Homo sapiens: one gene and its partners. The protein of the gene in region 1 purifies or fractionates together with the protein of each later gene. This does not show direct contact. Each region holds a gene or a part of one and is shown in the gene's direction. Other genes may lie near its edges.

Region 1 (3,500 bases):
ACATGGCCCTGGATGCCCCCTCAAGACACTGAGCGGCTCCTTCCCCCATGGCCGGGGCGCCCTTCTCTCCTGTGACCCCATTGAAGGGTGCTGAGATGAGGAGCGGGATGAAGTTAGAGTTCTTCTGTGATGGTCAGGCTAGGTGTTCGGGACAGCTACGGGAGATACTCATTTACTCCGCCAATGTGTTTTGGGTGTCCAAGGTGTGCCGAGCCCTTTCCAGCCTCCCAGTGATATGGCTTGAGAGAGTTGGGAGCTGAGGCCAAAGCAAAGTGGAGGGTCCGACCCTACAGCCCCCTGCCCCCGCCCCCTTCCTCGTAATCACTCCTTTCCTTCTTACAGAGACTCCATGCCCTCCTACCCCTTCTGCTTTTGACACACTCTGGAGTAAGGGGTTAAACCAGCCCGACGCCGTCCAGCCTCTGCAGCTGCGCACTGCGGCGGGTGCCCACCTTTCCCTGTGCCCTGGGAGGGAAGGAGTTAATTAGACTCTTGGCCCTTGGCCTCCCGCCGGAAAGCAGCAACACTGCGGCTGCGCGTTGAATAGGCTCCGGCCCGGAAGGGGTTAAGACGGCCCCTAGCCGCTGCGGCTGCGCACTGCGGCGGGGGAGCTGTCCGCGGTACTGGCCGCCGTGCGCCCCGCCCCCCGGCCCGGCTGGCCCGCCCCCACTGCGGTGCCGCAGCTAGCGCCGCGCGCCCGGCTCGGAGGGGGCGGGGAACTAGGCATGCGCTCTGCGAAGGCCTCTGGCCTCTTAAACCACTGCAGAGAAGCGAAGGTGGGGGTGGGGGGGGAGTTCAGAGAGGACCTGCGCCGGCCCCCAGCCCACCCCAACGTCCAGGGTCCTCTCTGTGGCCCCGAAACTCTCCACCCACTACTTCCCAGCTCTGCACCTCAGTGAAGTCAAGCCCAGAGCCCAACCCCTGTGGAGGAAGGGGGGTGCACAGAGGGACAGTGCTGGCCCTTGGCCCACCCCAAAGTCCAAGGTCCTCTCTGTGGTCCAGCAGTGGCCTCCCCGTGCTCTGTGCCCCTGATTAATAGCAAAACTCCCCATGCCCTCCCTCCTCCACTACCCGCAGGATTAAAACCCTCTCTTTACTATAACACCTGTCTTCCTTCCCTCTCCAATGCACTCCTCTCCCCTCCCACCCCTCTGCATATCTGATAAAGCCCATGACATCTCTAGGGGCCTGGCCCATTGCTTTCCTTCTCCAAGACCCTGACCCCACTCCCTCCTCTTCTAGGCCTTCATCAAAACCCACATCACTGTGTGGCAGGACTCTGGTTATCCCCCATCTTGAAATGGCTCAGGACCCTTCACCCCTCATTCTCTGCCCCTTTGGCAAATGCCCTAACTTCTCTTTGGCCCTGGCTCTGCCTTTTCCCACAATGTCCAGGCCAGTGACTCTCCTTCCTCTTCAGGGCCCTAAACCCTGCCTGACTCTCCTCTTTTATCTCCTCTTCCATTTTTGCAGGCTTAACCCTTCAACCCCTCCTCCCTTAAGGGCCCGGACCCCCACCTCCCCTCTGTGGCACCACCACTGCCCTGTCCTCTCTGGGTGAGGCCTTGACCTTGCCCCCCAACTAACTGCTGCCTGCATACCCTAACAACAGCTCAGGTCTTCTTACTGTGTTCCAGGCACTGCTCCAAGCACTGTGTTTGGAGCCAAGTCCTTCGTACGCTCATCTAATTTAATCCTCACAACAATCCCACTACAAACTTCTGGTTCAGAAAGCTCAGTCTCCTTGCCCAGTTTTGACAGGTTAAAAGCCAGATTCATGCCCAGGCTCGCCGACTCTTAACCACCTCACGATTCTGCCTCCCTGCCCGCCTTCTCCCTTCCCGTCTGCCCAGCTCCAAGCTGAGCCCTAAAGCCTCCGAGACACACAGGATGTGTGATCTTAGGCCTGGCGGCTCCCGTCCCACAGCAGAACCCGTGGACCCTGCTGGGGGGCCCTGAAATAGGACACAGGGAACAGGAGGGTGGGGGGAGGTGGTCTAGGAAACAGCAAGGGGCCAGAAATGTTTCCAAGGAAAGAAGCTGCCCATCTGCTGCGTCTGCTGGGGCCAGCTCTTCTCCAACTGCCTCTGTTCCTTTCTCTCCCTTTTTGCTAGCTTTAGAGGGGAGAATGGGATTCTGGAAGTGATGGAGCCACAGGGCTGAGACACCTGGATTTTGCCCAGAGTTTGGGCCCAGGAGGCTGGGGAAGGGGGCACTGGAAGGGTCTTCTGGATGTTATGGCCAACCTGATGCCTAGGTCACCTCTCCCCCTCTCTCTCCCTCCCTGCCCTGCAGTATGTGGCCTTCGCCTCCCTCTTCTTCATCCTCATCTCCATCACCACCTTCTGCCTGGAAACCCATGAGGGCTTCATCCATATTAGCAACAAGACGGTGACCCAGGCCTCCCCGATCCCCGGGGCACCTCCGGAGAACATCACCAACGTGGAGGTGGAGACGGAGCCCTTCCTGACCTACGTGGAGGGGGTGTGCGTGGTCTGGTTCACCTTCGAGTTCCTCATGCGCATCACCTTCTGCCCAGACAAGGTGGAGTTTCTTAAAAGCAGCCTCAACATCATCGACTGTGTGGCCATCCTGCCCTTCTATCTCGAGGTGGGCCTCTCGGGCCTCAGCTCCAAGGCCGCCAAAGACGTGCTGGGCTTCCTGCGGGTGGTCCGCTTCGTCCGCATCCTGCGCATCTTCAAGCTGACCCGGCACTTCGTGGGGCTGCGCGTGCTGGGACACACGCTCCGCGCCAGCACCAACGAGTTCCTGCTGCTCATCATCTTCCTGGCCCTGGGGGTGCTCATCTTCGCCACCATGATTTACTACGCTGAGCGCATTGGCGCCGACCCCGATGACATCCTGGGCTCCAACCACACCTACTTCAAGAACATCCCCATTGGCTTCTGGTGGGCTGTGGTCACCATGACGACCCTGGGCTATGGAGACATGTACCCCAAGACGTGGTCGGGGATGCTGGTCGGGGCGCTGTGTGCCCTGGCGGGGGTGCTGACCATCGCCATGCCTGTGCCCGTCATTGTCAACAACTTTGGCATGTACTATTCGCTGGCCATGGCCAAGCAGAAGCTGCCCAAGAAGAAGAACAAACACATCCCCCGGCCCCCGCAACCGGGCTCGCCCAACTACTGCAAGCCTGACCCACCCCCGCCACCCCCGCCCCACCCGCACCACGGCAGCGGGGGCATCAGCCCGCCGCCACCCATCACCCCACCCTCCATGGGGGTGACTGTGGCCGGGGCCTACCCAGCGGGGCCCCACACGCACCCCGGGCTGCTCAGGGGGGGAGCGGGTGGGCTGGGGATCATGGGGCTGCCTCCTCTGCCAGCCCCCGGCGAGCCTTGCCCGTTGGCTCAGGAGGAGGTGATTGAGATCAACCGGGCAGGTGAGCCTGGGCGTCAGGGATCGGGGGCACAGGTGGAGACCCGGGGAGGACTGGGGAGGTAGCTGCCGGGGTTCAGAGAACCTGGGGTGGTTGGCGT
Region 2 (3,500 bases), on another chromosome or scaffold:
AGCCCAGGAGTTCCAGACCAGCCTGGGCGACATAGAAAGACTTCATCTCTACACAAAATAAAATAACATTAGCTGGGTGTGATGGTGCCTGCCTGTAATCCTAGCTACTTGGGAGGCCGAGGCAGGAGGATTGCTTGAGCTGGGGAGGTTGAGTCTTCAATGAACTGTGATTGTGCTACTGTACTCCAGCCTGGTGACCGAAATGAGTCTCTGTCTCAAAAAAGAGTATACTTGGCCAGGCGCAGTGGCTCACACCTGTAATCCCAACACTCTGGGGGGCCGAGGCAGGAGGACTGCTTGAGCCCAGAAGTTCAAGACCAGCCTGCGCAACATGGTAAAACCCTGTCTCTACAAAAAAATTAAAAAGCCAGGTGTGGTGTTGTGTGCCTGCAGTCCCCGCTACTTGGGAGACTGAGGTGGGAGACTCACCCAAAGCCTGGAGATTAAGGCTGCGGTGAGCCAAGATCACGCTACTGCACTCTAGCCGGGGCATCGGCAGTATCCTTATGACTTTTTGTAATCCCTTCTTTTGCTCCTTACTACCCTCTCTGTATCCCTAGGAAACCATTGTTTCCTTTCTGTTGCTTAAGATTAGTTTTTATTTTCTAGAATTTTATAAAAATGGAATTGTATATACGCTTTTTTTTTTTTTTTTTAGCACGGGGAATCTCCTTACACTCAGCATAATTTGAGATTCATCCATGTTGTTATGTGTTCATAGTTTTTTATTGTTGAATAGTATTTTATTTTATGAATATACCATGATTTTTTTTAACCCATTTACCCTTTGATGGACATTTGGATTGTTTTCACTTTTTGACTATTATGAATAAAGCTGCTATGAGCATTCATGTACAAGTTGTTGGAGAGAGATATGCTTTCTTTTCTCTTATATTAATGCCTAGGAGTGCAATAGCTAGATGTGATAGGGAAATATTTTTTCCCAGTTGTTGGCTTGTCTTCATTCTTTAAACAGTGTGCTTCAAAGAGCAGTTTCTATTCACAGACAACATGTCTGTGACTCTTCAAAAAAGCTCTAGTGAATAGGTTAATTCAGCAGAGTTGTAGCTTAGAAGGTCAATATACAACAGTAAATTGTATTTCTATATACTAATAATGAACAATTAGAAACTAAAGTGAAAAATTCCCATCTCATTAGCACTAAAAACCATGAAATACTTAAGTATTAACTTTTCAAATGGTGTGTAATATTTGTATGTTGAAAATTATGAAACACTGATTATATCATGTTCATGGATTAGAAGACTCAGTATTAAGATACCTACTCTTCTCAAACTGATTTATAGATTCAGCACATTTCTAGTCCAAATCTCAGAGGATTTCTTATAGAAATTAATGAGCCGATTCTAAAATTAATATGGAAAACCAAAGGAACTAGAAAAGCTAAAACAATTTTGAAAAAGAATAACAAAGTTGGAAGATTCATACTACCTGATTTCAACTTAGTTTAAAGCTGCAATAACCAAGACTGTGGTATTGGAGAAAAGATAGACATACAGATCAATTGAACAAAATAGAGAATTTAGTCACACAAAAATTGTCAATTCATTTTGAAAAAGTTTAAGGGCAGTTCAACAGAGGATAGTCTGGAACAGTTGAATATTCATATGCAAAGAAAAAACAATCTTTGTTTTATTTGGGCACCAAGTATCCACTGTTGGACACTGGGCAGTCCCTTGCCCAGGAATTTATGTGAATATTGGGACAAGTGACATGAATCCACCAGTGGATATGAAATAAAGTTTAATCACACAGTAAACAGCAAAAGGACTCCTCAAGGTCAAGGACTTAGGTTTAGTCCAGGATGAAGCAAGAGTGAAACAGGGTGGGTGGCTTTGGTTTTTATTGACCAGAAGGTGGAACTTGTTTGATGGTCCCCATGTGTGGTATTTACATGGTTTCAACTTCACACCAGTACCAAGGGAGGGAATACTGGTCCCCAAGTGTGGTATTTATATGGTTTCAACTTTACACCAATACCAAGGGAGGGAGTACCTGGGCTTTCTTACAGACTTACCCAGATGTGGGACAAAAGGGAGAGAGGTGTGGGACCTGAAGGCAATCTGCACTCAAACATCAAAATGAAATCTTTTTATTAGAGCCTCAATCTGTACTTGACACTGTATGCAAAAATTAGTTCAAAATGGTTCGTAGGCCGGGTCTGGTCGCACACGTTTGTAATCCCAGCATTTTGGGAGGTTGAGGCAGGAGGATTGCTTGAGCCCAGGAGTTTGAGACTAGCCTTGGCAAGAGTGAGACCCGTTTCTATTTTAAAAAATGTTCATAGATTGTGAAGTAAAATGTACAGCTATAAAATATTTGAAAGAAAACATAGGACAAAAATATTTTTGACCATGGGTCAGGCAGAGATTTCTTGGACATGATGCCAAGAACATGATTCATAAATGAACAAACTGATAAATTAGACTTCATCAAAATTAAGAAATTCTGCTCTTCCAAACACACTGTTGAGAGAATAAAAAGACTTCACAGACTGGGAGAAAATATTCCCCATCACATATCTGACAAAAAATAGACTGTATAAGGAACTCAAAGCTGGGCATGGTGGCTCACGTCTGTAATCCCAGCACTTTGGGAGGCCAAGACTGGAGGATTGCTTGAAAATCCAGGAGTTTGAGACCAGCTTGGGCAACATAGCAAGACCCCATCTCTATTAAAAAAAGTAAACAACCTAATTAAAAAGAGCAAAAGATTTGAGTAGACACTATGCAGGAAGGTGTATGAACAGCAGATAAACACCCCAAAAGGTGTTAAACATAGGCCAGGCATGGTGGGTCATGCCTGTAATCCCAGCACTTTGGGAAGCTGAGGTGGGTGGACCATCTGAGGTCAGGAGTTCAAGACTAGCCCGGCCAACATAGCGAAACCGTCTCTACTAAAAATACAAAATTGGTCAGGTGTGGTGGCACGTGCCTGTAATCCCAGCTACCTAGGAGGCTGAGACACGAGAATCACTTGAACCCAGGAGGTGGAGGTTGCAGTGAGACAAGATTGTGCCACTGCATTCCAGCCTGGGCGACAGAGTGAGACTCTGTCTCAAAAAAAAAAAAAAAAAATAAAGGCATTAAACATCATTAGTAATTATGGAATTGCAAATTAAACCCATAATGAGATAGTACTATATGTCTATTGTGAAAATTAAGATATTAAGAGAAACTAAGGAAAAAACGGCAATACAAAATGCTGGTAAGAATGGGAGCAATGGAAACTTTCATCCTTTGCTGTTGGAAGGGCAAATAGTGTAGCTACTTTGGAGAAACGTTTGGCAGTTTTTTATGAAGGTAAATATATACTTGTCATATGACCCAACATTCCCGCTCCTAGGTATTTACCCAAGTGAAATGAGAACTTAGGTTGATTTCCTCTTTTTTTTTTTTTTTTTTTTTTTTTTGAGATGCACTCTCACTCTTTTACCCAGGCTGGAGTGCAGTGACACAATCTCGGCTCACTGCAACCTC
Region 3 (3,500 bases), on another chromosome or scaffold:
GTGGCACAGGGAGAGCATGAGCAGGGTGCACCCTCTCTTCACCTTCTTGGCCAACCGCCTTGTTGCACTCTCTCTGAACAGCACTAAACGTGTGGATCATTCCAACACCCGCCTGGTCACACAGCTGGACAGGAACCCTGGTGTGTACCCAGCCATCCAAGGGGCTTTAGGGCAGGGCCTCCCTGGGGAGGGAGCCTCGCTAACTTGTCACTTTGTCCATTTGCCCGTCTGTTCTGGGTCTTAGGCGCTGATGACAACAACCTCAACTCCATCTTCTATGAGCACTTGACACGTTCGCTGCAGCACACACTGTGTGGGGACCTGGTGCTGGGCCGCTGGGGCAACTATGGCCCTGGTGACTGCTTCGTCCTGGCCTCTGACTACCTCAACGCCCTGGTGCACCTCATCGAGGTTGGCAATGGCCTCGTCACCTTCCAGCTGCGTGGCCTTGAGTTCCGGGGTGAGCCGCAGGACCAGGCTCGGGTGGGCAGGCACAGCTCGGGCCTGATGTGGGAGCTGTGTTCAATAGCACGTGCGAAGGAGGTCCAGTCCAGCTCTGTCCAGGCTGGCGGGTGGCCTTGGGCAAGGCACTCCTCCTCCCTGGGCCTGCGTTTCCCAGTCTGAGCAATGAGGTGGCAGGGTCTCTTGGCCAAGCCCTGTGCCTGCCCCAACTTTAGGTCCCAGTGACTCTACAGGTCACTGCAGTGAGGGCCTGGGCCTGGAGGTCTGAGTTCTCACACCCAGCCTGCTCTGTGGTCTCAGGCTTGGCCCATGGGTTGGGCGCCATGAGTGAGCCAGCTCCTTCCTCTCAGGAAGACGTGTGTGTTGGATGCCCGAGAGTGCAGAGGGGCCAGACCGTGTCCCTGCTCCCTCCCGCCCTGCCCTTGGATGCTGGGAGTTGGGAGGAGAAAGGCAGGCGCTCTTTCGTGAATCTTGGCATCCAATAAGGTTGACTCCCCTGGCGTCCAAGGGGGTGAATGGCAGCAGGCCTCTGATGCCATGTTGGTCACTCTCCCAGGACAGGGCAGGTAGGGATTGTTCTAGCAGCCCCTGACTGCACACCCCTCCTCCACAGGCACTTACTGCCAGCAGCGCGAGGTGGAGGCTATCACCGAGGGTGTGGAGGAGGACGAGGGCTGTTGCTGCTGTGAACCTGGCCACCTGCCACGGGTCCTGTCCTTCAATGCTGCCTTTGGGCAGCGCTGGCTGGCTTGGGAGGTAACAGCCAGCAAGTACGTGCTGGAGGGCTATAGCATTAGTGACAATAATGCTGCCTCCATGCTGCAGGTTTTCGACCTCCGCAAGATCCTCATCACCTACTATGTCAAGGTACGGTGGGCAGGTGTGGCCGGGCAGCAGGGCCCTTGCGGGTGAGCGCTCGCTGACCAGAGGCCCCAGTACCCCCTTTCTGGGTTGTTGGGAGCCTGTTTTGTCCAAGGGAAGCTGAGGCCTCAGAGAGTTTAAGTGTCCCCTGAGGTGCCACTGCCAGACCTCAGGTTGCAGGGGCCTCTGTGCCCATATGGCTCTGATAGGTGCCCAGGCAAGGAAGGCTTGCTTTGGGCAGTGAGTATGGGGCAGGTGGGCAGTTGCAGAGGCCAGCCTTTGAAACCACCAGCCCCTGCCCCCAGCTCACCCAGCACAGAGCAGTGGTAGAGCTAACAGTTGTCACGTTAACGATCATCATGGGAGCAGCTGCTTGAGCAGTAACATTTACCACGGGTGGGCGCTATGCTGGGCATCTCTCCTGAGCTGGGTGGAGTCCCCCACCCTTTGAGAGGGGCCCTGCTATCTCACAGATGTGGAAGTTGGCTTGCAGAGGTTCCAGAATCTGAAGAAAATGGCCAAGCCAGGCCTTGAACCCAGGCTGGCCCTGAGCCACAGAGCTTTCCTGCCTTAGCCTGGGGGCTCTGAGCCAGGCCTGAGGATCTTGAGACCTCTTGGGGGTGGGAGGGGGTTGGTGAGGCAATGTGGGGTACATAAGGAGCCCTGGAATGGGGGTTCTGATCAGCCTGGAATGTTTCTTCCCTGTGTCCCTCAGCTTACCCCTTGAGAAGTGGGGGTTATTGCAGTTCTCTGAGATGGCAGAAATGTTGAGGCTTGGCCAAGCGTGGTGGCTCATGCCTGTAATCCCAGCACTTTGGGAGGCCAAGGCAGGTGGATCACTTGAGGTCAAGAGTTTGAGACTAGCCTGGCCAATGTGGCGAAACCCCATCTCTACTAAAAATACAAAATAATTAGCCGGGTGTGATGGCGGGCACCTGTAGTCCCAGCTACTTGGGACGCTGAGACAGGAGAATCACTTGAACCTGGGAGGCAGAGGTTGCAGCCAGCCGAGATCGTGCTACTGCACTCCAGCCTGGGCAACAGAGCAAGACTGTCTCAAAAAAAAAAAAGGAATTTTGAGGCTTGTGGTGCTCAGAATAAGCGTACTGGGAGTGGGGTGGCCTGCTGATCACAGTGCAGGCTCCCACGTGCCTTCTTAGGATCTACCCTGGTGCTCCCTATGTTGGGCTCGGTGGGTGGCCTACTGGGGCCCAGGTGAGCCTGCCACCTAGGTTCTCTCTGGAGTAGTTTCACGAGGCCCTGGCTGTCCTTCTCCAAAGGAAATCCTGTCCACACCACATATCAGAGGAGCTGTCATTTGTCATTCCTTCTGCCCTCCCAGCCACTCCTAGGCAAGGATTTGTGAGACCACCCCCCTTTCATCAAGAAGGAGGCTGTGTCTAGAGAGGGACATTCCCAGTCCCAGGTCACCGAGAGGTCATGGCCTGGTCCACCTTCCGGTCCCATCTTGAGAGAGGTGCCCTTGCCCAGGTTGCCCTGCTGTGCCTGCTAGGCTAGGGCCAGCAGGTTGAGATGCACCTGGCCAGGTCTCTTGTCCCATGGGGAAGCTGACTGGCCACATCTAAGGCTGCCTCAAAGGCTGGGCAGAATTTGAGTCTGGAGGAAGTGCTTGGAGGACCTGGGGTGGCTCCGCTGAGGATGTGGACTGAGGGTGAAGCTTGGAAGGACAAGTCAGGGCTGCCAGGGGTGGGGCGGGGGGAGGCGGGTGTGCTGGGGAGCCTGGTGCATCTGGGGAAGTGTCCCAGCTGCAGGGATAGGTCCTTTCCAGCCTTCGAGGTTGGCCAGTCGAGGCGGAGCCCCTCCCGTTAGCTTTGCCCTTCCCGTGGGAGTTACTGGGCTCTCAGACCTGCTTCTGCAGCTGGGAAGGGCTACAAGAGCAGGAAAAGGCACCGTGGCTTGAGGCTGCACGGAGTCTGGGCAGTGCTTCCCGGGAAGTACCTTGGGCAGAGCCCAGCTCGCAGTGAGCGCTCACAGGCGGAGCGGCTGCTGGTATTGCCCCCCGTCTTCATTTTCTTCCTAAGATGACCGTGAGTGTTGTGTCAGAGAAAAGGATGGCACTGGTGAAGGTTAACCAAGCACCTGATATGTGCCAGGCCAGCTCCTCTCCCGGTCCCTGAAGCTTTTCTTTTTTTTATTTTTTTTTGAAACAAGGTCTC
Region 4 (3,500 bases), on another chromosome or scaffold:
TCTGTCTTTTTTATTATAGCCATCCTAGTAAGCATGAAGTGGTATTGAGTCTTGGTTTTGATTTGCGTTTTCCTGCTGACTTAATGATGTTGAGCATTTTGTGTCTACTGGCCTTTTGTATATCTTCTTTGGAGAAATGTCTGTTCAAATCATTTGCCCATTTTATAATTGGGTTGCCTTTTTATTGTTTAGTCTCTCTTATCTTGTCAGAATTATTTAAAATATCTTCCCCTAATTAATAACAATTAGATAGAGAATTTTTCTTGAATGTAAATAATTTGGTGATGTTAGAATAACAGAGTTTATATTTACAATATATAAAGTAAATGTACAGGCCACACAAACTTAATGATTATTTCTGAACAGCAGTAAAATAGCATACTCAGCTGTTTACCAAAAGAAATGTGCTTGTTTACTTTTTGTAATTATACTGCCTTGTTTTGGTAGGATTTAGGGACTATGCAGAAGTAGTGGGTTGGTAATGAGAGCTTTAAAAATTGCATTTTAAGGTAAAAGTTTTAGCAATTAACTCTAAGATAGAAGTAGTAAATAACATTCAAAACTAGAGTTCAAGCATTGACCCAGAATTTTCTGATATTTATTTTTAATAACTTAAAGAAGGGACTTGAAACTTACAAGAATTTTCTTGCTGTTTAAATATGACCAAACCAAGAAAAAATTAAGTAGTGAAAATACTTGCAACTTTATGGACTTACTGGATACTTCAGCATTATTTTTCACGTGCTTTGTTTGTTTGTTTGTATGAATTCTGAGGTGTATGTTGATACCTTTTCTCATATATAAGGATTTATGGGTTTTGTTTAGTGTAGGGTTTTTTGTTGTTCTCTCATTCTTAGTAAATATAGATAATCCAAGAATGACTTTTAAGTGCCTTTAGGTCCTGCCATTTGCTACAGTTATAAATGTTGCCCCTTGCTTAGCCCTAATCCTAGCCCCAGCTCTGCTATTGCTTAAAAACAACTCATTTTAGAACTGCTTAGTGAGGAGGGCGGTGGTGAAGCTTTCTTGCTGATTGGGAACTCAAATAATAGTTTAAATCTGTAGGGTATAATGTCTTAAACGTGTTAAATTCAAGTTTGTTTCTATTAGAATTAGAACTATATATGATTTCTGTGTTGGAGATTCATAAAAATGTCATATTTATTTTTAATAACAATAGGACCTAGATACAGAGGAAGGTGATAAGGAGGGAAAAAAAAACGCTCTATTTTATTTTATTTATTTATTTATTTTTGAGACAGAATCTCACTTTGTCGCCCAGGCTGAAGTGCAGTGGCTTGATCTCAGCTTACTGTAACCTCCACCTCCCCGGATCAAGTGATTCTCGTGCCTAAGCCTCCCGAGTAGTTGGGACTACAGGTGCATGCCACCACACCTGGTTGATTTTTGTATTTTTAGTAGAGACGAGATTTTACCATGTTGGCCAGGCTGGTCTCAAACTCCTGACCTCAAGTGATCCGCCCACCTCAGCCTCCCAAAGTGCTGGGATTACAGGTGTGACTTGAGAACAAAACCTTAGTAGCACCTATTTGTAAATAAATGTTTTCTTAAAATTGAAGGTCATCAAGGCCAAAGGCACCATGGCAGATTGTGACATATCTGAAGTAGGAAGAGTTTTAGGGTTCTTCTGGGGAGCCATTCTAGTCTGCTCAGCACATAGAAGGGAGCAAAGGTAATCAGGAAAAGAGTAATGGCACACTCTGGGTGTGAGAAAGTGAAAGGTCATCTGAATTCTCAGGTGATTGGATTATTTATTTCTTAGCGATGGAGGCATAGGTAGTTATAGGTAGTTCTGTATTAAACTCTACTTTGTATGGCCTGTGTAGGTAATTGTATAGCTGTATTTGGAAAAAATGCCATTTAAATCATATTTCAGCCGGGTATGGTGGCTCACGCCTATAATCCCAGCGCTTTGGGAGGCTGAGGCAGGCGGATCACTTGAGGTCAGGAGTTTGGTACCAACCTGGCCAACATGGCACAACCCCATCTCTACTAAAAATACAAAAATTAGCCAGGTATGGTGGTGCATGCCTGTAATCCCAACTACTTGGGAGGCTGAGGCGGAAGAATCACTTGAACCCAGGAGGCAGAGGTTGCAGTGAGCCAAGATGGTACCACTGCACTCCAGCCTGGGTGACAGAGTGAGATTCTGTCTCAAAAAAATAAATCATATTTGAAGTTTAGTAAAATTGGTCAGAAATTATATGACAGGAAAAAAAATCCAGTGTCCAACAGCTATTTATTATCTATCACAGTCACTCAAAGGATATCCCCCCTACCCTTGCCCAACATCTCTGTGCACTGAGAGCAGAAGTTCCCAGATCTGTCCCAGTTTTCAGATCTGTCTCTCTGAGTATCCCCTACAACCCAGATTCTGTGACAGTTAAATTGGACTCGGGCTTCCACTGACCCAGTTGATGGAAGAGACTGAGCATCTTTCCAACTCTAACCCAAACGTGACAATGCCGCGTATTCTTTCAGAAAGTGTCAGGAAAGAGCCCGAAGATCCCTGAGCTCCAGGGACATGGCAGGGAGGCTGCACAGAAGGGTTCCCAGGGGTGGAAAAGGGGAATCTTAAAAATAAATTTTGGAACCAAGTAATCAATTTTATAGCACACTCTAGTTCTAGCGCACATGGTTCCTCCACTTGTTAGTGAATGCCTGACTTGTTGCCCCTGAAGTGTAAAAAGATGTATATTTAAGGATTCCATTGTTCAGCAAGTTATTATGCATGCAGATGGCAGGCACTAAGTGCTTACTCTTTTTGAAGGTGATTGCCTCTCCCCGCGATCCCCCTACATTGCAGTGTTTTGTTTTAAACAGCTTTCTTGATGGAGCCTAATCTTATCACCAGCATTATAGAAATAAGCCAGAGTGAGAAGCCTGTACAGTGAGGTCTTGGGATTATACCATAGTCATAATGGTGTTTTAAATTGTTTTTATTTTTCAATTGAAAAAAGTACACTATTCTAAAGTAGTGAATTTTAGTGGAGCAAACTCTTCACCTGGAAGTGTTTTTTTCCTTACCAAAGTGAAAATTGGTGGTTCTAAGAAGGCTGGAATTTATTTGCACTGTCATCTTTTACTATGGTGGGGGATGATCAAATTTAACATTTCCAAGTTTCCAGGAGACAGGCAGCCTATCTTATAAATATTGTCATAGAAGACCTCTTAACCTCTTTGTTCTTTGGATTTCTGTATTTCTTAGAATTGTCATGCTTCCTTTCTGAGACCTAAATTATGCAGGGGTAACGTGATTACTTTGACACCAAGCTCAGGAAATATAAAACGGGTTAAGTATAAACCAAGCTAGGTTTAAATGAAGTTCATTACTGGCTACAGTATATTAAGGGAACATATTCGAAAAGTCTGTATTTGCCTTTGTTCTTGCTGCTGACTCTTCTGCTTCTTTTGGTGACCTTCCCACAGCACAAGAGTGGTTAGGTGTGAGGAGGCTAAGAATACCTTGCCAAGAGCTT

What was found. Proteins that work in one complex are often made in the same cells at the same time.
Region 2: the proteins of KCNC3 (region 1) and P4HA1 purify together in Homo sapiens (affinity purification with mass spectrometry; one large-scale study listed by BioGRID and IntAct). This does not show direct contact.
Region 3: the proteins of KCNC3 (region 1) and PCNX3 purify together in Homo sapiens (affinity purification with mass spectrometry; one large-scale study listed by BioGRID and IntAct). This does not show direct contact.
Region 4: the proteins of KCNC3 (region 1) and NDFIP1 purify together in Homo sapiens (affinity purification with mass spectrometry; one large-scale study listed by BioGRID and IntAct). This does not show direct contact.

Annotation. Positions count from the first base shown.
Region 1 is NC_000019.10:50,322,878-50,326,377, reverse strand, and holds part of KCNC3 (voltage-gated potassium channel KCNC3), read left to right. Parts: intron 1-2,295; coding exon 2,296-3,403; intron 3,404-3,500. UniProt on the Homo sapiens protein: Voltage-gated potassium channel that plays an important role in the rapid repolarization of fast-firing brain neurons.
Region 2 is NC_000010.11:73,086,867-73,090,366, reverse strand, and holds part of P4HA1 (prolyl 4-hydroxylase subunit alpha-1 isoform 2 precursor), read left to right. Parts: intron 1-3,500. UniProt on the Homo sapiens protein: Catalyzes the post-translational formation of 4-hydroxyproline in -Xaa-Pro-Gly- sequences in collagens and other proteins.
Region 3 is NC_000011.10:65,629,276-65,632,775, forward strand, and holds part of PCNX3 (pecanex-like protein 3), read left to right. Parts: intron 1-81; coding exon 82-140; intron 141-244; coding exon 245-460; intron 461-1,075; coding exon 1,076-1,329; intron 1,330-3,500.
Region 4 is NC_000005.10:142,125,779-142,129,278, forward strand, and holds part of NDFIP1 (NEDD4 family-interacting protein 1), read left to right. Parts: intron 1-3,500. UniProt on the Homo sapiens protein: Activates HECT domain-containing E3 ubiquitin-protein ligases, including NEDD4 and ITCH, and consequently modulates the stability of their targets. As a result, controls many cellular processes.